2 separate regions of the Homo sapiens genome follow, and region 2 is linked to region 1. A link means that fine-mapping ties the variant in region 1 to the expression of a gene that starts in the linked region. Tissue or cell type: whole blood. Region 1 holds a variant in brackets; the other region holds the start of a gene. All regions are shown on one strand. Distances are between the middles of the regions.

Evidence for each region. PIP is the estimated chance that this variant, and not a neighbour inherited with it, causes the effect.
Region 2: ADGRE3 starts here. The variant in region 1 is fine-mapped to the expression of ADGRE3 in whole blood (TOPMed, PIP above 0.99).

Annotation. Positions count from the first base shown.
Region 1 is chr19:14,614,521-14,617,150 of GRCh38, reverse strand. It overlaps a transcript of ADGRE3 not described here. Among named protein-coding and RNA genes, the nearest start is that of SNORA104, 6.4 kb to the left of the region's middle. The variant T/C (reference allele first, on the strand shown) is at 1,450.
Region 2 is chr19:14,673,723-14,676,352 of GRCh38, reverse strand. ADGRE3 (adhesion G protein-coupled receptor E3) reads left to right here and starts at 1,509. Exons shown (of 16, transcript NM_032571.5): 1 at 1,509-1,607. The coding sequence starts at 1,583.

The DNA of each region.
Region 1 (2,630 bases):
TCTGCAATAGCCACTCTATCTCTCCTCCTCTTCACAGCCAAAATTCTAGAAAAAAAGGTGGGGTGTGGTGGCTCACACCTATAATCCCAGCACTTTGGGAGGCCAAGGCGGGTGGTTCACCTGAGGTCAGGAGTTCGAGACCAGCCTGACCAACATGGAGAAACACCCTCTCTACTAAAAATACGAAATTAGCCAGGCGTGGTGGCGCATGTCTGTAATCCCCAGCTACTCAGGAGGCTGAGGCAGGAGAATCACTTGAACCCGGGAGATGGAGGTTGCGGTGAGCCGAGATTGCGCCACTGCACTCCAGACTGGGCAACAAGAGCGAAATTCCATCTCAAAAAAAAAAAAAAAAAAATTCTAGAAAAAAGCTTGTTTCCACTGTGTTGTCTTCACTTGCTCCAACCTCCTCACTGTTCAACCACTGCAATCTAACTTCTGCTTGCAACACACCAAAGGATGAACCAATGTCCCAAATGCTTCCTCGGTGCAAAGTCCACTGGTTGTTTCTCAGTCTTACCAAACTTGACCGCTGGGTCAACATTTGACTCTGTTGATCATTTTTTTTCTTCTTGAAGCATTCTCTTCTCTTGGCTTCCCTGATGCCACACTATCCTCCTATAAGGATAGTCAATTCATTCTGGTTTACCCGGGACTTTCCCAGGTTTAGTACCAAAAGTCCCACAATCCAGGAGTCCCTCAGTCCCAGGCAAACCAGAACCATTTCACAAACTCATCTTTGATGATGACACTCATCCCATAGCATCATCATTTGAGTTCTCCCAAAAGCAAACTCTGAGATAAGGAGTTTAATGCATGCAGGTAGATTATTTTGGAGATGATCCCAGGAAACACCAACGGGGTGTGAAGAAATGAGGCAGGGCTGGGCACGGTGGCTCACACCTGTAATCCTAGCACTTTGGAAGGCCGAGATGGGCAGATCACGAGGAGTTCACGTGGAGATCACGAGGAGATCACAAGGGCAGAGGTCAGGAGTTCAAGACCAGCCTGGCCAATATGGTGACACCCCGTCTCTACTAAAAATACAAAAATTAGCCGGGTGTGGTGGCATAGGCCTGTAGTCCCAGCTACTCGGGAGGCTGAGGCAGAAGAATCACTTGAACCTGGGAGGCGGAGGTTACAGTGGGCGACAGAGCAAGACTCTGTTAAAAAAAAAAAAAAAAGTAAGGCAGAGAAAGAACAAGATGTGTTAAAAGATGTGTTATTGCTGGGAGCAGTGGCACACACCTGTAGTCTCAGATACTCTGGAGGCGAAGGCGGGAGGATTGCTTGAACCCAGGAGTTCAATGTTGCAGTGAGCTATGATTGCACCACTGCACTCTAGGTTGGGCAACACAGCGAGAACCTGTCTCTCTAATTTTTTTTTTTTTTTAGCAGAGTCTCTCTGTTGCCCAGGCTGGAGTGCAGTGGCATAATCTCAGCTCACTG[T/C]AACTTTCGCCTCCCGGGTTCAAGCAAATCTCCTGCCTCAGCCTCCTGAGTAGCTGGGATTACAGGCACGCACCACCACGCCCGGCTAATTTTTGTATTTTTTAGTAGAGATGGGGTTTCAACATGTTGCCCAGGCTGGTCTCGAACTCATGGCCTCAAGCGATCCACCTGCCTCGGCCTCCCAAAGTGCTGGGATTACAGGCGTGAGCCACCACACCTGGCCAGAGATGCTGTCTCTCTAAAAAAAATTTTTTTTAATTTTAAAAATTAACCAAAAATGTGTTAGTTGAGCAGGCTATCTCTCTAGGCAGGTGGAGCTTTACCCTAGTGGGGACTTTCAGGAGATAATGTGGAACATGCATCTCAGAGTCACCTCTCCCGAGGAACGAGGGAGCTGGGGTGGGAGATGGAAGTTGCAGTGAGCCAAGATCACACCACTGCACTCCAGCCTGGGCAACAGAGTGAGACTCCATCTCAAAAAAAAAAAAAAAAAAAAAAAGAAGGCAGCTGTAGAAAGAGATCAACAAACAGTGGGAGGCACAGATGGAATCTGAATCCCAGTTCTGCCATTTACCCACTAAATGACAATGGACAAGCCGTGAGACCCCACCTCTGGGCCTCAGTTTGCCCAGGTATAAAATGGGGTTGGTTAGCCAGGTGTAGTGGCACACACCTATAGCCACAGCTACTTGGGAGGCTGAGGTGGGAGGATCACTTGAGCCCAGGAGGTTGAGGCCACAATGAGCTGTGATTGCACCACTGCACTTCAGCCTGGGTGACAGAGTGAGACCCTGTCTTTAAAAAAAAAAAAAAATGGGGGCCGGGCACAGTGGCTCACACCTATAATCCCAGCACGCAGCACGTTGGGAGGCTAAGGCAGGCAGATCACTTGAAGCCAGGGGTTTGAGACCAGCCTGGCCAACATGGCAAAACCCCATCTCTAGTAAAAATACGAAAAAATTCACTGGGCATTACGGTGTACCTGTAATCCCAACTACTTGGGAGGCAGAGGCAGAAGAATGGCTTGAACCCAGGAGGCAAAGGTTGCAGTGAGCCGAGATCACACCACTGCACTCCAGCCTGGGAGACAGAGTGAGACTCTGCCCAAAAAAAAAAAAAGATTGGCGGGCGTTGGTAAATATTCCAACCTCACAAAGTCATGGTGAAGATTCAATGAGAGC
Region 2 (2,630 bases), 59 kb before region 1:
AGATGAGGATGGGGCGGCCAGCTTCTTTGCGTGCTATGCAAACAGCACACCCAGTCCGACCAATCTCTCGGTTCCTGTGTAAATCAGACAGCTCCTCCTCAAGCTCGGCTATAAAACCCCATGTATTTCACCACGAGACCAGAAGACTCACTTGGGAGCCCCTCTCTCTCTGCAGGATAGAGCTTTTCTCTTTTTTCTCTTCTCTTGCCTGTTAAACTTCTGCTCTGAAACTCACTTTTTTTTTTTTTTTTTTAGATGAAGTCTCACTCTGTCACCCAGGCTGGAAGGAACTGGCGCAATCTTCGCTCACGGCAACCTCTGCCTCCCGGGTTCAAACAATTCTCCCGCTTCAGCCTTCCGAGTAGCTGGGATTACAGGCATGCGCCACCATGCCCAGCTAATTTTTGTATTTTTAGTACAGACAGGGTTTCACCATGTTGGCTTGGCTGGTCTTGAACTCCTGACCTCAGGTGATCCGCCCGTCTCAGCCTCCCAAAGTGCTGGGATTACAAGGGTGAGCCACAGTGCTCGGCCTTAAATTCACTTCTTGTGCATCCGCATCCTTGATTTACTTGGCATGAGAGGATGAACCCCAGACAACAACACTGCTTCAGTAGGAAGTCTGGTGTTTTAAGTCTAATGAAGAGCTTCAGAAGAGTTTTAAGCAGGGGAGCCGGGTGCAGTGGCTCACACCGGTAATCTCAACACTGGGAGACTGAGGCAGAAGGATTGCTTGAGCCCAGAAATTCAAGACAAGCCTGGGCTACAAAGCGAGGCCCTGTCTCTCTTCAAAAAAAAAAATAAAAACTAAAAAAAATTAGCCAGGCGTGGTGGCATGCACCTGTAGTCCTAACGATTCAGAGGACTGAGGTGGGAGGATCGCTGGAGCCCAGGAGTTTGAGGTTGCAGTGAGCTATGATTGTGCCACGGCACTCCAGCCTGGGTAACAGAGCAAGACCCACATAAATAAATAAATAAATATTTGCTGGAGGAAGGGTAGATTTACAGACTTTTTCTCCCAAGTCCTGTGACTGGTTAGGGTTGGTCCAAATAACCAAATAATGTATTACCTTCTATGAGACTTTGGGACTCTTAACTTCTTATGGCTCAGCAATCATAACCAGTAAGTATCATCTACTGGGGGAAGAGAAAGATATGTTAAAATGACTCCTCTGGAAACTTCAGATACCAACACAGACACCCTAAAATCTGGTTTACTCACCTCAAAGCCACAGGCTTATTTAAGATTTATTTTGGCCCCAAAGGCACTTCCTAATCCTCAGACAATGTGATGTAACTTTCAGGGCATTTCCTCGTTAGGGTTTACCAACTCAATCATCCCAAAGGTGATCAACAATAGCTAGGCAGAAAAGGTACAGCAAATAAACGAAAAGCAGAACCATGAGTCTGATGGCGAAAGAGGGGAAGCAGTTTGCTTTTCTGATAGCAATTTCATGAGTCAGCTGACCTAAGATACATACTTCAATTCTCATGGGATTTCTTGAGCTAGGAAAGGTGGTTGGCTTACGGCACAGTAGAGAGCTTCCAGGGCTGGCTGGCGTGGGATACCCGTACCACAGAAATGCAGGGACCATTGCTTCTTCCAGGTATGTGTGACTGTAACAATGACTGAGGCTTAACCTATCCCCCAGTCAGGGACCACTTGGTTCAACAATTGGTTATTTTCTCCTCCTCTTTCTTCTGCTCTGAACACTCTCACCTTTTCCCTTTGGAGTGTGGTTTCCTTCCTGACTACCCTATTCAAAGTATGCTCTCGAATATCCCTAAAATGTTCCTATCCAATCTAGTAGCTTGGTTTTTTGTTTGTTTTGTTTGTTTGTTTTGTTTTGTTTTTTGAGACAGAATCTCACTCTGTCACCCAGGTTGGAGTGCAGTGGCGCAATCTTGACTCACTGAAACCTCTGCCTCCCGGGTTCAAGTGATTCTCCTGCCTCAGCCTCCTGAGTAGCTGGGATTACAGGCACACATCACCACACCTGGCTAATTTTTGTATTTTTAGTAGAGATGGGGTTTCACCATGTTGCCCTGGCTGGTCTCGAACTCCTGACCTCAGGTGATCCACCCGCCTCAGCCTGCCAAAGTGCTAGGATTACAGGCATGAGCCACCGCACCCGGTCTCTAATACGTTGTTCATCTTCCTCTTGGCAAGTTTTGTTTTCTAATTGATGTCTTCTCCTTCTTGATAACTTCTGCAAACTAGCCCTGCCCTGACTTTTTTCCTTTTTCTCTTGCTATTCTTTCTTCTCCCTCCTTTATCATTTTCCTGTGACAAGAAAATAAATGATAATTTTATTATTAATTTTAGAGGTCATTATATTAAGTGAAATAACTCAAACACCAAAAGACAAATGCCTCATGTTCTTGTTTATCAGTGGGAGCTAAATAATGTGGACACATGGACATAGAGAGTAGAATGATAGACGATGAAGACTGGGAAGGCTGAGGGAGTAGAAGGACAGTGGAAAATAAGAAGTTACCTAATGGTTACAATGTACATCATTTGGATGGTGGATACTCTAAAAGCCCTGACTTCACCACTATGAAATCTATGCGTGTAACAAAATTACACTTGTATCCCATAAATTTATACAAAGAAAATAATGATAACC